Linked DNA regions of Homo sapiens: region 2 is linked to region 1. The links come from fine-mapping of genetic effects on gene expression. Tissue or cell type: whole blood. Region 1 holds a variant in brackets; the other region holds the start of a gene. All regions are shown on one strand. Distances are between the middles of the regions.

The links. PIP is the estimated chance that this variant, and not a neighbour inherited with it, causes the effect.
Region 2: it holds the start of GRB2, and the variant in region 1 is fine-mapped to the expression of GRB2 in whole blood (INTERVAL, PIP 0.92).

What each region holds. Positions count from the first base shown.
Region 1 is chr17:75,308,307-75,316,410 of GRCh38, forward strand. No RefSeq gene overlaps it. Among named protein-coding and RNA genes, the nearest start is that of SLC25A19, 23 kb to the left of the region's middle. RefSeq lists an enhancer at 7,689-7,838. The variant C/T (reference allele first, on the strand shown) is at 3,959.
Region 2 is chr17:75,402,323-75,410,408 of GRCh38, forward strand. It overlaps GRB2 (growth factor receptor bound protein 2), which reads right to left and starts at 3,356. Exons shown (of 6, transcript NM_002086.5): 1 at 3,167-3,356. It overlaps MIR3678 (microRNA 3678), which reads left to right and starts at 3,747; the gene lies at 3,747-3,840. It also overlaps the pseudogene RNU6-938P. RefSeq lists a silencer at 3,414-3,593.

The DNA of each region.
Region 1 (8,104 bases):
GATCGATTGAGCTCAGGAGTTGGAGACCAGCCTGGGCAACATGGTGAAACCCTATCACTACTAAAAATACAAAAATTTAGCCGGACATGGTGGTGTGTGTCTGTGGTCCCAGCTACTTGGGAGGCTGACGTGGTAGGATTGGTTGAGCCCAGGAGGTGGAGGTTGCAGTGAGCTGAGGTTTTGCCTGTGATCTGGGAGAAAGGTAGATGCTGACCAAAGGCAAAGACTCAGAAGGGATTTGGTTGGCCAAAGGCTTGGAGAATTGGACCAGGTGCAGACTGTATGAGATCTTGAATGCCAAGATCCTAATCAGCACCTGTCACGATGTACTTAATCGTTGCAGTTGCAAAACACCCGTGTACATAATCACGTTGGATCCTCAGAGCAACCTAGGGACATTTTCCTTGGTTTGATTTTTAAACAGATGAAGGAATGGGGGTGAGAGGTTAAGGGCCCTGGTCGTGGCCAGGCGCCATGGCTCACGCCAGTAATCCCAGCAATTTGGGAGGCTGAGGTGGGTGGATCACTTGAGGCCAAGAGTTCAAGATCAGCCTGGGCAACACAGCGAAACCCCGTTTCTATTAAAAATACAAACAACCAGCCAGACATGGTGGAACGTGCCTGTAATCCTAACTCGGGAAGCTGAGGTGGGAGAATCGCTTGAACCCGGGAGGCGGAGGTTGCAGTGAGCTGGGATTGCATCACTGCACTCCAGCTTGGGCGATAGAGTCTTGCTCTGTTTCAAAAAAAAAAAAAAAAAAAAAAAGGAAGAAAAAAGGAGAAAAAGGGGGCCCTGGTCACACAGCGAGGAATAAAGGCCCTGGCCTCAGGCCTGCGATCTCATGCTCTTTGTCCTACATCACACTGCTCCTGAGGGGCAGGAGCCTGGACTTTGCCCTCTTTGGACAGGCTGGGGAAAGAGGCAGGGTGGAGAGACAGGAGGAGGTTTTGTGGCAGTGGGGAGAGGGGGACGAAGGGCCGGGACCAGGATGGTACCAGGGAGCATTTCCCTGCAGCCCTGTCCCTGGAGCCCTGTGGCGTCCCTGGTGCTGTGGACTCTTGGCTCACCTCCTGCCGCTCTGGCCTCTCTCCTGTGTGCTTCCTGCCTTCCCCTCGCCCAGCCCTCAGGGCTGTGCTTCCTTATGGGGACTGGAGTATGTGAGGCCTCACCCGTGGCCATGGTTTCAGGGCCACCTCCACACTGACAACACCTGGATCTCGATCTCCTGTCAGATCTGTCTCCTGAGCTCCAGGTGAACACACCCTGCTGCTTTCTAGATGATTGTCCTCAGGCACCTCAAATCCAACCCTCCAGCCTTTCTCTCTGCTTCACCCCACCCTGCCCCTCTTCCCCTAGTTCCCCATCTCAACAAACAAAAGCCACAGATCCCCCCACTGCCCTGCAGCCATCTGGACCTGCCTTTCCCTCCACCCCAGGTCTTCCCAGCTCCTCCTAAATACAGCTCAACGCCCTTGGCCCTCTGCCACTCCCTTCACTGGGACAACATCAGCAGTTTCTTTATTTTTTTTAGACGGAGTCTCACTCTGTTGCCCAGGCTGGAGTGCAATGGTGTGATCTTGGCTCACTGCAACCTCCGCCTCCCGGGTTCAAGTGATTCTCCTGCCTCAGCCTCCTGAGTAGCTGGGACTACAGGCACACGCAACCACGCCTGGCTAATTTTTGTATTTTTAGTAGAGACAAGGTTTCACCATATTGGCCCGGCTAGTCTCAAACTCCTGACCTCTGGTGATCCACCCACCTCGGCCTCCCAAAGTGCTGGGATTACACAGCTGGCTAATTTTTGTTATTTCTTGTAGGGGCAAGGTTTTGCCATGTTGCCCAGGCTGGGGTATATGGTTTCTTTTGGGGTATGACAGTGTTCTAAAATGGATTGTGGTGGCTGGCACAGTGGATCATGTCTGTAATCCCAGCACTTTGGGAGGCCAAGGTGGGAGGGTCGCTTGAGGACAGGAGTTTGAGACCAGCCTGAGCAACATAGTGAGACCCTGTCTCTACTAAAAAACATAAAATAAAATGGATTGTGGTGATGATTGCATAACTGTGAATACTAAAAAACATTGAATAATATACTTTAGATGGGTCACTTAAAAATGTTACATTGATCATATCTCCATAAAACTTTTTTTTTTTTTTTTTTTTGAGACAGAGTCTCGCTCTGTCGCCCAGGCTGGAGTGCAGTGACGCCATCTCGGCTTGCTGCAACCTCTGCCTCCCAGGTTCAAGTGATTCTCCTGCTTTAGCCTCCTGTGCAGCTGGAATTACAGGCGTGGGCCACCATGCCCGGCTAATTTTTGTATTTTTAGTAGAGACTGGGTTTCACCAGGTTGGCCAGGCTGGTTGTGAACTCCTGACCTCAGGTGATCTGGCCCCCTCGGCCTCCAAAAGTGCTGGGATTACAGGCATGAGTCACCATGCTCGGCCTAAAATCTTCAAAAAATTTTAAAATTCGCTAGGTGTGGTGGTACCACCTGTAGTCCCAGTTCCTTGGGAGATTGAGGTGGGAGGATGGCTTGAGCCCAGGAGTTTGAGGCTGCAGTGAGCTATGATCACACCACTGCACTCCAGGCTGGGCCATGGAGCAAGACTCTTGTCTCTTAAAAAAAAAAAAAAAAATTGGCTGGGTGCGGTGGCTCATGCCTGTAATCCCAGCACTTTAGGAGGCCGAGGAGAGTGGATCACCTGAGGCTGGGAGTTCGAGACCAGCCTGATCAACATGGAGAAACCCCCGTCTCTACTAAAAATACAAAATTAGCCAAGTGTGATGGCTCATGCCTATAATCCCAGTTACTCGGGAGGCTGAGGCAGAAGAATCGCTTGAACCCAGGAGCTGGAGGTTGTGGTGAGCCGAGATTGCACCATTGCACTCCAGCCTGGGCAACAAGAGCAAAACTCCGTCTCAAAAAAAAAAAAAAAAAAAAAAAAAAGGCTGAGCACAGTAGCTCATGCCTGTAATCCCAGCATTTTGGGAGGCCGAGGCAGGCAGATCACTTGAGGTCAGGAGTTCGAGACCAGCCTGGCCAAATTGGTGAAACCCCGTCTCTACTAAAAATACAAAAATTAGGCCACGGGCCAGGCACGGTGGCTCACTCTTGTAATCCCAGCCCTTTGAGAGGCCAAGGCAGGTGGATCACGAGGTCAAGAGTTCAAGACCAGCCTGGCCAGCATGGTGAAACCCCATCTGTACTAAAACTACAAAAAAATTAGCTGGGCATGGTGGCATGCCTGTTGTCCCAGCTACTCGGGAGGCTGAGGCTGAAGAATTCCTTGAACCCGGCAGGCAGAGGTTACAGTGAGCCGAGATTGTGCCACTGCACTCCAGCTTGGGCGACAGAGTGAGACTCCATCTCAAAAAAAAAAAAAAAAAAATTAGGCAAGGTGGCGGGTGCCTATAGTCCCATCTACTCAAGAGGCTGAGGCAGGAGAATCACTTGAACCCAGGAGGCGGAGGTTGGAGTGAGCAGAGATCGTGCCACTGCACTCCAGAGTAAGACTCTGTCTCAGAAAAAAAAAAAAAAAAAAAAAAAAGGCCAAGTGTGGTGGCTTATGCCTTTAATCCCAACACTTTGGGAGGCTGAGGCGGGAGGATCCCTTGAGTGCAGGAGTTCAAGACTAGTCTGGGCAATATAGTGAGACCCCATCTCTGTGAAATTTTTTTTAATTAGCTGGGCATGGTGGTGCGCACGTCCAGCTACTCGGGAGGTTGAGGCGGGAGGATCACTTGAGCACAGGACTTCAAGCAAGCAGTGAGCTATGATCATGCCACTGCACTCCAGCCTGAGACAAAGCAAGACTTCGTCTCAAAAAAAAAAAAAAAAAAAAAAAAAAAAAGACATTCAGAGAGAAATTGGCTTGTCCTATGCAGCTAGGTCTGGAGAGTGGGGTTCGTGCCGAAGAGCCAGCCCCATCTGTAAGGAGATGGCGCAGATGCTGGTCTTA[C/T]GAAAGCTGTCACTGCTGCTTCCTTCTATTTTAGATGACAAGCAATTCTACTTCCTTTTCCAAAACCTCATATTTTTTTCTTTTCTTTTTTTTTTTTTTGAGACAGAGCTTCACTCTTGTTGCCCAGGCTGGAGTGCAATGGCATGATCTTGGCTCACCGCAACCTCCACCTCCTGAGTTCAAGTGATTCTCCTGCCTCAGCCTCCTGAGTAGCTGGGATTACAGGCATGCACCACCATGCCCAGCTAATTTTGTATTTTTAGTAGAGATGGGGTTTCTCCATGTTGGTCAGGCTAGTTTCAAACTCCCAACCTCAGGTGATCTGTCCGCCTCGGCCTCCCAAAGTGCTGGGATTACAGGCGTGAGCCACCGTGCCCGGCCAAAACCTCCTATTTTTTGCTGGGCCTCTCAAGTTTCTCCCCAGGTCCTATCCCCAGCATTGTCCCTGGATAGGCAGTGTGGCTGCTGTAACAGACAACCCTCCTCCCCCCGTCAGTGATGCAACACAGCTGATATTTGTTTCATTTTTTTGAGACGAGGTCTCGGTCTCTGCTGCCCAGGCTGGAGTGCAGTGGCAGAATCATGGCTCACTGTAGCCTCGACCTTCCAGACTCAGGCAATCCTCCTGCCTCAGCCTCTTTGAGTAGCTGGGACTACAGGAGCACACCACTGAGTCTGTCTAATTTTTTGTAGAGACAGGGTCTCACTATATTGCCAGACTGTTCTCAATCTCTTGGGCTAAAGTGATCCTCCCAAAGTGCTGGGATTACAGGCATGAGCCACTGTGCCCCGCCCCAGACATGTTCCAAATCTAGCAGGTGCTCTGGGTCTTCTGCTGGCTCTCCTGCATCCACCCACAGGCAAGAGAAGCAACAAAGTGGGGAGGCCACAAGGCCCCAAACACACCACACACGTCAGGACTGGAGCACATGGCTGCTTGGAACTGCAGGGAGGTTGGGCACATGGTCCAGACAACTGGTCGGGAGAGAGCCAGGTGAGCACTGCGCACACTCTGCTGCAGAGCCTGACTTCACTCAGCTAACACGACCCTAGCCTCTTCCAGGCTATCCGGATTCTGGTCTCCGCACCACTGCAAGTCAGATGTTCCTAAAACTTATCTTTCATCGTACCGCTGATCTATAAGAGCTACAGAAGCAGCCAGGCATGGTGGCTCACACCTGTAATCCCAGCACTTTGGGAGGCTGGGGCGGGTGGATCACCTGAGGTCGGGAGTTTGAGATCAGCCTGGCCAACATGGCAAAACCCCATCTCTACTAAAAATACAAAAATTAGCTGGGCATGGTGGTGCACACCTGTAATCCCAGCTACTGGAGAGGCTGAGGAAGGAGAATTGCTTGAGCCCAAGAGGCAGAGGTTGCAGTGAGCTGAGATCGTGCCACGGCACTCCAGCCTGGGTGAGTGAGACTCTGTTTAAAAAAAAAAAAAAAAAAAAAAGCTACAGAAGCCTCCTGTGTCAACAGGCAGAATGGGCATCGCTCAGCCTGCATTCGAGTCCCCCACAAACCCCACCTGGGCTCTTTCTTCCTCGTTGCAGGAGGCTACTCAGGCTCCCTCAAGCCATGTCCAGGCAGGTGCTCGCTAACACCGCCACGCCTCTACTAGACCACCTGCTCTGGGTGTCTACTGTCCTATTAGTAACTGTCCAAACTCATTTCACCCAATCCCCAGGGCAAGTCCCATCTGCCTCCAAGCCTCCCTTTGAGCCTGTGCTGTCTACATTTCCTCTTTGAGTCTCTCTCATGCAAGGGCTTGCATAATACAAGGATCAGGACTGAAGAGTGCGTCTGTGTCAAGGACAGAAGGCTCCAGTGGGGCAGTTTCCAGTTTCAGGGTGACTCAGGGCAGCAATGCCACCGTGCAGGAATGGAAAGCGGTGGTTGATGGTGTGAGAAGACACGGGGGCCCTCCTCAGCCTCCAGTTAGAGGGGAGATAATTGCCTCCAATTCCACACGCCCCAGGAATGACGTTCACCATCAATCCCTACAGGTGTGGGCAACACATGTGTAACAGAGTAAATGAAAAAGGGTACACCCTCGCCCCTTGCTTCCCTAGCACAGCGCAGGATGAGGGGTGGGGTTACAGCAGGAGGCAAACATCCACCCTTTCACCCCAGGCTCGGGCCCTTGCACAGGCCTGCAGCACGAGGCGAGCCCTCAGGACCTGGCAGCTGCTATTTTGGAGGCCAACACTGCTGACGCCACGACTCACACTCAGAGAATGGCTGCAATAGCTGTGCTTTCTCAACCCGAATCCAGGAATGTTAAAAAAAAAAAAGGCTGGGGCAGGGCCTGGTGGCTCACGCCTGTAATCCCAGCACTTTAGAGGCCAAGGTGGGCAGATCACGAGGTCAGGAGATCAAGACCATCGTGGCCAACATGGTGAAACCCCATCTCTACTAAAAATACAAAAATTAGCTGGGTGTGGTGGCGGGCGCCTGTAGTCCGAGCTATTCGGGAAGCTGAGGCAGCAGAATCGCTTGCACCCAGGAAGCGGAGGTTGCAATGAGCTGAGATGGCGCCACTGTACTCCAGCAACAGAGCCAGACTCCAACTGAAAAAAAAAAAAGAAAAAAGAAAAAAAGAAGGCTGTCCTTGGAGACCTAAGACCAGTGTTGCTCTTGGGTGGGCCAGAGTTGAGACTTAAAATACGTCTTAGTGATTTCTTTTTTGGACGGGGTATAGTATGGCTTTTAGTGTTAGTTTTAAAAGTAGTGTTTGGAATGCACTAAGCAGTAAGTGGCTTAATCAATATCACTAACATGTAATATTGATCTATCAGTGCTGTTGGCACACAGAATTGTACTCTTTTTTTTTTGAGACGGAGTCTCACTCTGTCGCCCAGGCTGGAGTGTGATGGCGCGATCTCGGCTCACTGCAACCTCTGCCTCCCGGGTTCAAGCGATTCTCCTGACTCAGCCTGCCGAGTAGCTGTGATTACAGGTGCCCGCCACCACGCCCACCTAATTTTTGTATTTTTAGTAGAGACAGGGTTTCACCACGTTGGCCAGGCTGGTCTTGAACTCCTGACCCCAGGTACAAAAATTAGCTGGGCGTGGTGGCAGGAGCTGGTTATCCCAGCTACTTAGGAGGGTGAGGCAGGAGAATCACTTGAACCCGGGAGGTGGAGGTTGCAGTGAGCCAAGATCGTGCCACTGCATTCCAGCCTAGGGGACAGACGGAGACTCTGTCTCAAAAAAAAAAAAAAGAAAAAAAAAGTATTTCCAAGACGCATAAAACAGGTCCACTGTCATTTTTTCCAGTTATCCAGGAACTTCCATAAAGCGAACGTTTTGGGCTGAAGGTCACCCACCCCATGAACAGTCAGGTGGAACTAGTGCCCAGGGAAGGCAGGCAGCCTGCGCCATCATGGCCTTTGGCTCAGAGGCCACCTAAGCAGCCCCGCGCTGTGGGTCACCATCTCCTCCACACTCAAGTCTGAAGGTGAGCCTGTCAGGGGCTCCCAGCTCACTGGGTGGAGGGAAGCGTGTCAGGGAGGGGTGGGGGGGGCGTGCCCTGAAGAGCGAGGCCATGCGCCTACCTCCAGCTTTTCCCCTGACACACTGAGCGACTCCCGGCTGCACGCCGGCCACAGGGCTCCTGTAAGATGCTGGGAGGCTTCCCAAGGCACCCCGCCCAGATGTCTTCCCAGGAATCCCGGATCCCTGAGGAGGGAGATACCATCACTAAGAAATCTGTGACCAAACTGCTGATCACAGAAAAGGAGTGATTTTCCCATTAATTCTGAAACAGTCAGTCAAACGCGAGGGAGGGGACAAATTGAGCAAAAAGCCTCAAATGAGGCTAAATGAGTCACCACGCCCGGCCTTTTCAATTACATAGCTCCATTTTGTAAACTTCTGCTCAGCTTCAAGGAGGCCAGCCCAAGTGGACCACAGGACTAGCAGTCTTGACTCTTGCTGGGTCAAGATCCTTCCCACACATGACTGCTGCAGGGGAAGGTCAAAAACGTCCCAGGCCAGGCACAGCTCACGCCTGGATTTCCAGCACTTTGAAAGGCCAAGGGTGGGGGGATCTCTTGAGCCCAGGAGTCTGAGACCAGCCTGGGAAACACAGACCCCACTGTACAAAAAAAAATGAAATTAGCCAGGTGCAGTAGCGTATGCC
Region 2 (8,086 bases), 94 kb after region 1:
GTAGGCAAATTAATGACCCTATTAAGTATAAATTTCAAGTTAAATCACTCCACATCACAGTATTAAGAATGCTAAAAAATTTACACATGTAAAAATGAATCATGCTTATAGTCACTCATTCCATTAGGCTATTCTAAATACTGACTTTGTGTATACACAGAAAAATGTAATTTTAAGTTGAATTACTTAAAGCCACACAGCAGTCTTATTATTTATGGCTGCATTTGGTAACAACAGTTTTGATCCTTAGACCATCTGTATCAAAATCCACCCATTCAGAGACTGATTCACTGTGGGGTACATCCTGGAGTTCTACCAGAACCTAATTTTAAAAAGATCTCCCAGTGATTTTTATGGATACTAAATTTTAAATAACTGCTATACCATAAGGATGCCTTAACCAGATTTTAAAATTTGCATTCCAGATAATGCACTACAATGTCCTTGCATGAAATGAAAATAATGCATATTGGCCGGGCGCGGTGGCTCACGCCTGTAATCCCAGCACTTTGGGAGGCTGAGGTGAGTGGATCACCTGAAGTCGGGAGTTCCAGACCAGCCTGACCAACATGGAGAAACCCTGTCTCTACTAAAAATACACAATTAGCCAGGCGTGGTGGTGCATGCCTGTGATCCCAGCTACTAGCGAGGCTGAGGCAGAAGAATTGCCCGAACCCAGGAGGTGGAAGTTGTGGTGACCTGAGATCGTGCCACTGCACTCTAGCCTGGGCAACAAGAGCGAGAATCTGTCTCAAAAAAAAAAAAAAAGGAAAAAGAAAATAATGCGTATTCACTTGGCACAACTAGGAAAAAGGCAACTTTGACCAAAAAAAATATATATATATATAAATATATATATATATACAGACTCTCAAAAGCCATTCAGTAATGGTGGAGAGTTCCTCTGAATTAAGCAAGTATTAATTTCTCTCCGGAGGGCATGGTGACTCTCTATTCTGTATTACTTCATTTCTCCAAAATCCATTCCTCTTCTGTTGTATGTGTAACAATTAGAACTCTGATGGACAACATGCAACATGATAACAGCAATTACTGAGAAGAATCTCTAAGTACCATCAACCAGTAGTATTTAAAACCCAGCAAGCCTCTCAAATCTGAATAACTTGCTGACGAAGTAAAGTGCCTCAAACATTTAAACGTTTGAGTTCAGGCCGGGCGCAGTGGCTCATGTCTGTAATCCCAAGGCTGAGATGGGCAGATCACTTGAGGTCAGGAATTCGAGACCAGCCTGGCCAACATGGTGAAACTCTGTCTTTACAAAAATACAAAAATTAGCCAGGTGTGGTGGTGAGCACCTGTAATCCCAGCTACTCGGGAGTGCGAGGCAGGAGAATCGCTTAAACCCAGGAGGTGGAAGCTGCAGTGAGCCGAGATCGCACCACTGCACTCCAGCCTGGGCGACAGAGCGAGACTCCGTCTCAAAAAAATAAAATAAATAAATAAATGCTTGTGTTTAGTAGAAGAAAGCTGATTATAAGAATTAACTCTGGCCGGGCGCGGTGGCTCACGCCTGTAATCCCAACACTTTGGGAGGCCAAGGCGGGTGGATTACCTGAGGTCAAGAGTTCAAGACCAACCTGGGCAACACAGTGAAACCCCATCTCTACTAAAAATACAAAATTCGCTGGACATGGTGGTGGGCGCCTGTGATCCCAGCTACTCGGGAGGCTGAGGCAGGAGAATCGCTTGAACCCAGGAGGCAGAGTTGCAGTGAGCCCATATAGCACCATTGCACTCCAGCCTGGGCAAAAAGAGCAAAACTCTGCCTAAAAAAAAAAAGTCACTGAGCTGACCCAATCTTCCTATTATAAAGACATACTAGAAGAAAACATAAGCAGGCACAGAAGCATAATCTTAAAAGAAAAAGAGTAAAAGACAAAAATAATACAAGCAAACCACACTTGCGACCTAGTGGCAGGACTGATTTCTTAGGGATGAATTCAATCTTTTGAGCCTCCCCGTTCTCAGAGAGGGGACTTCAGCCTCCCACGGCTCTCTAGCAACCCTTCTGGCTGACTGCAGGGAACGCAGGGGACGCGCAAAAGTAAAGGAACGAAAGCAAGGAAAGAGAGTCTCTTCCCGAGGAAAAAGACGGAATCTTGAAATGAGAGAAAACGAACAGCACGAAAGGGAAGAAACCTCGAAAAATTACGCCAGAGTGGGGACTACAAGGAGGAAGGGGAAGTACATTAGAAAAAAAGGGGGGGGTGGGGGGAGGAAGGGGCAAATGACTTGCATTACACAAGCATTTCGTGTCCCTAGTGGAAAGGACAGAAGCAGATAGAGAAGGAAGGAAATAACTGGAGAAAGAGGAGTAAGAAAGCCAAAATAGACTAATGCTAATTTCTCTCATGTGTCTGACATTTCGGAAAGTCAACAGCATCAAAAAGAGACAGACCTCAAGTGCACTTCAGTCCCCTGCAAACTGCACTTTCACAGCGTTTGAAGCCAGCCTTGAAAAACTTTCTAAACAAGCCATAACTCATGTGTGGCTTACAATCATAGAGAGGGCGCGCTGCAAATGAAAATTACCAGCGCCCGCTCTCGCCGCAATCCTTCCTCGGTGCAGTCCAACCTGCTACTGCTGAATTTTTCTTGACAAATATTTTTCAAATAGTTTTTTTTTTTAAGTGTCAGAATAAAGGTATCTCCCCCGGCTCCAGCAGCAAACGTTCCACCCCAAAGTGGATTCCCGCACAAAATTAAGCCCAAAGACGCCAGGAGATGGTGACGTGGTTGCCGTGCAGGTCGAAGGCACATCAATCACCACAGCTGCAGCCCACACCAGTCCCCCGCCGCCAGGCTCGGGTAGACTGACTCGGTCGGCGTTCGGCCCGCCTGGGCTTCCCGGGCCCCTTCCGTGCAAACCCTCCCGATGAAGGCAGGGGACCTCGCCAGAGAACCCCGACCTCTTCCCCCGGACTGCCCAGAGCCAAGAGCCGGAGGAGGACGGTCCCCAGGAAGGAAGCGCCCCAAAAGGGGAAACGTAGAGTCCGGAGCCCCGGGGATTGCGCTCCACGTCCCAAGCCTCGCCGCCCCGACGCGAACCCCGGGGCCGGTCCCGGTTCCCCCGGGGCCCACTCCCGCTGTAGAGCCAAGAGGAAAAGGCACGAGAGAGGCGCCGAGCGCAGCCTCCCGTACTCACCGTGGCGCAGCTGCTCCGCTCAGCGTCCGGCCCGCCCCTCCACAACGCTGCGAGCGGCCGGCGACCCCAAGGCTGCTCTGCGAGGGCAGCGCTTGCTCCCGCCGCCGTCACCGCCACAGGCACAGACTCTGCCACAGCCGCCGCCGCCGCTGCCGCCGCCCGGTCGCCGAAGCAGCAATACCTCCTGGCTTCCGCTCCCCGTCGGTGTCCCGCGAGAACTTCTCCACGAGGCCCCGCCCCGCCCCCGCGAGACTTCCCCCGGCGGAAAAGGCCCAGAGCGCAAGCGCTCCTCCTCAGCCGGGCCCCTGCGGGTAGGGAACCAGCTAGGTGTCAGGGCGCATGCGCCAGACCTCCCCGCAGCAGGTGGCCTCCGCACGGCTCCGCCCCCGGGTCGCCGTAACCCTCTCGGTGCCAGAGCGGGTAAATGACAGCTTAGCCCTGAAGGACTCTTCCCCCGTCTAATCACTTTATTTTCCTCTTCTACCAAACCTAGGCAGTTGGATGGGTAGGGGCTTGGGGGAGGAAGAGATCTTCCAGAATGAAGCACTCCAAATAGAGGACCAGGTCTTAAAATATTTGAGAATCCGGTCCGTACAAACTCTGCTGTGTTGAATGATTGGTGAGTTTGTTTGCTCATTGATTGAATCACTGCAGAGTTTGTACGGACCGGATTCTCCAATATAGGCCGAACACTGTGCTGGGGATAGAACAGAAATCTTGGCCCTTAAGGAATTCACGGTCTAGGAAGTAGAAGAAAAATAAACAAATAATGCCATAAGTACTGTTATAATTATTTGGAGTTTGCTGAGGAAGCTAAAAAAATGGAGGGGGTACTGCTACACTGCCCATTGCAGAAGAGCCTTCACAGATGTGATGCGGCGATGTCTGATCTGAGTCTTGGAGGATGAGTAGGAATTTGCCAGGCAGAGAAGCCAGAGTAAGGGCATTTCAGGGAAAGGGAATGGCACGTAAGTACAGAGGCTAAGTACAGAGGAACGGAGGCGTGAGAGAGAAAGTCGTGTTCTGTGCAGTGCTAAGTAGTTCAATTCCTGTATGAGGCCGGTGAGTACGGGGGAGTGGCAGAAGATGAGGCTTGGAGAAATAATTCTTATTTTTCAGTTCCCAAAGCTCTTCCAATTAAAGGATAGAACACAACACACCTAGCGTTACTGTGCCTTCTGGAAGCCAACAAAATAGCGCTGAGGTGAGAATAACCAAGCATCTGATTCTATAGAGAAAAGAAGCCCATTGAAACACAGAAAATGAATTGTGCTTTCACCAAGTATTTATTGAGCATCACCTGTGTGCAAGGGGCTCTGCAGGGTCAAAGACCAACCAGATGAAGCCCCTGCTTTCAGTGCTTTGTAATCTAGAGTTGCCTAATCTGTAAGACAAGCAGTTGGCCCCAAGTGCCACTGAACTACACATAGGGATGGCTGAGGAGGGAGCCAGTACTTGGTGCTGAGCTAATCAAGAAGGATTTGGTTTGAACGGCAAAGTGAAAGCAGGGAGGAAAGAGGAAAGAGTAATGGAATCAGCCTTTTGTTTTTTTTTTTTTTTTTTTTTTTTGAGACGGAGTTTTGCTCTTGTTGCCCAGGCTGGAGTGCAATGGTGCGCGATCTTGGCTCACCGCAAGCTCCGCCTCCCGGGTTCAAGGGATTCTCCTGCCTCAGCCTCCCGAGTAGCTGGGATTACAGGCATGTGCCACCACACCCAGCTAATTTTGTATTTCTAGTAGAGATGGGGTTTCTCCATGTTGGTCAGGCTGGTCTCAAACTCCTGACCTCAGGTGATCCGCCCACCTTGGCCTCCCAAAGTGCTGGGATTACAGGCGTGAGCCACCATGCCTGTTTTTTTGGTTTTTTTTTTTTTTTTGAGACTTGCACTGTTGCCCAGGCTGGAGTGGAGTGCAGTGGCATGATTTTGGCTCACTGCAACTTCCGCCTCCTGGGTTCAAGCATTCTCTCACCTCAGCCTCTCAAGTAGCTGAGATTACAGCAGCCTGCCACCACACCCAGCTAATTTTTGTATTTTTAATAGAGACAGGGTTTCGCCATGTTGGCCAGGCTGGTCTCGAACTCCTGACCTCAGGTGATCCACCTGCCTCAGCCTCTCAAAGTGCTGGGATTACAGATGTGAGCCAACACTCCTGGCCATCAACCAATGTTTTTGATTAGTCCAAGCCCCAGTAATTGGGGGGAAGAGTGATGAGAGAGAGGGGCCAAAATGCAAAATGCATGGCTTAGGTGTCATAGTCAAGTGATGGGCAACCTCTGAAGGTTTCTGAGCAGGAGGTGTCTGATATGAGGTGAAAATAAGAAAAGGACCCTCTATTTACCACTTGATGCATACTTAAGTCATAGCGCCTCCACAGGGTGGGTAATATCCCCATTTTACAGACTTGGAAACTAAGCCTTAGAGAGGTTAGTAATTTACCCAAGGAAGCCAAAATATAGTAGACCTAAGATTTGGACTAAGGCCTGTCTTGTTCTAAAATCCTCATTTTTTTCCCGCACTATGCCACTTTGTTCTAAAATAGCAGTCAGAAAAAAATAGAAATGGAAGGGAGGGACTTAGCTGCTAAGCAGAGAGGAAGACATGAGGGAAGAATTGCAGTTTTTTGTTTTGAGTGGGCCTGGATAACAGGGAGAACACAGAAATTTGCCAGTCAAGAGGCATAGCTGACTGGAGGGGGCAGGCACAGAGAACAGGGAAGGGCAGGTGAGGAGATGATTGTAAGGGTGAAGGGAATTTTTCCCTTCCACTCTGACAGTTTGAGTCTGCTGAAATAAACTGGCAATAGATTAACAGGAGAAAGCACATACAAATTTACTGACATGCAGTGTGCATGGTTACCATACAGAATATGAGACTCAGAGAAGAGCCAGGTGGCTGAAGCTTAAAGAGCACCATCTTTGCAGAGGAGAGGGAGATGAGCGGAGGTCAGCAATACTGAAAGGTAGTCAACTATTTTTAGGGAAAAGGAATGAGCCCAAACAATGCCTGGGACAAAGTTCCTCTGAGCTCTGGGAGCTGGAGGTTGTGACAAATTTCAGGAAGGTGAGGTGCAGGACTTCACTGTAAATAAAGGTTGTCTTATTATGCAGATAAAGTCTCCTAAATAATCTCAGCTGTCCTCAGGAGAATAGATGAAAAGTCTGTTTGGATGTGGTGACAACTTTTAGTCTTTTCTCTTCTCTGGTAGTTAATATTTCCTGGTTATTTGACGAGAGTCCTAGGGAGGAAATTTTAAGACAGTCGCATCTATTTTTTTTCTTTTCTTTTCTTTTTTTTTTTTTTGAGATGTAGTTTCACTCTTGTTGTCCAGGCTGGAGTGCAATGGCGTGATCTCAGCTCACCGAAACCTCCACCTCCCAGGTTCAAGTGATGCTCCTGCCTCAGCCTCCAGAGTAGCTGGCATTACAGGCATGCACCACCACGCCCGGCTAATTTTGTATGTTTAGCAGAGATGGGGCTTTTCCCTGTTGGTCAGGCTGGTCTCGAACTCCCGACCTCAGGTGATCCGCCCGCCTTGGCCTCCCAAAGTGCTGGGATCACAGGCGTGAGCCACCACACCTGCTCTTTTTCTTTCTTTCTTTTTTAATGGATCCCTTCACAGATTTGCATGTCTTCTTGCTCAGGGGCTATGCTAATCTCTGTATCATTCCAATTTTAGTATATGTGCTGCCAAAGCAAGTACACAATTGAATTTCTTTTGGTTTCTCAGTCAGCTAAGGGAACTTTCAGACAGCCCCTGCATGCATGTGGGGTGGTGAAACAAGACTTTAAAAAGTCCTTGGTTCTGAGGCAGCTTGTAAGTCCTTCCAATTTCCTTTCATTCAAAAGTGCTCAGAATGCCAGAGGAGCATACTTTGGGGTATCATTCTCTGAGCCCCAACATGATGATGACTCATTTTTGGAAATGCAGAATTCAGCATTCCAGGAGACATGCAGGTGGAAATATTCAGTATGCTGTTGAAAAGCTTGACAAGCTGGACGCAGCGTTCTCTCCCATAATCCCAGCACTTTGGGAGGCTGAGGCAGGTGGATCACTTGAAGTCAGGAGTTTGAGACCAGCCTAGCCAACATGGTGAAACCTCATCTCTACTAAAAATGCAAAAATTAGCCGGGCGTGGTGGCACATGCTTGTAACCCCAGCTACTCGGGAGGCTGAGGCAGGAGAATTGCTTGAACCCAGGAGGCGGAGGTTGCAGTAAGCAAAGATCATGCCACTGCACTCCAACCTGGGTGACAGAACCAGACTCCATCTCAAAAAAAAAAATAAATAAATAAATAAAAGAAAAGCTTAATGTACTCATTCATTCTCTTTGCCAACATTAACTAAGCATCTATTCTCTTTGTTTGTTTTTTTTTGTTTTTGAGACAGGGTCTCACTCTTGTCACCCAGGCTGGAGTGCAGTGGCGCAACCTCAGCTCACTGCAGCCTTGACTTCCCAGGCTCAGGTAATTCTCCCATCTGAGTCTCCCAAGTAGCCAGAACTACAGGCACATGCCGCCATGCCCAGCTAATTTTTTGTGTTATGTAAGTATGTATGTATGTACGTATGTATGTATGTATGTATGTATTGAGACAGGGTCTCACTCTGTTGCCCAGGCTGGAGTGCAGTGGCACGATCAGGGCTCACTGCAGCCTCAACCTCCTGGGCAAGAGATCCTCCTGCCTCAGCCCCCCAGTACCTGGGACAACAGTCATGCACCACCACGCTTGGCTAAATTTTTGTGTTTTTAGTAGAGATGGGTATCATCATGTTGGTTAGGTTGGTCTCAAACTCCTGGGCTCAGGCAATCTGCCCGCCTTGGCCTCCCAAAGTGCTAAGATTACAAGCGTGAGCCACCACGCCCAGCCTAGAGCATCTACTCTCTAGAGAGGAGGACAACCCTCCACAGAGTCTGCAGCCT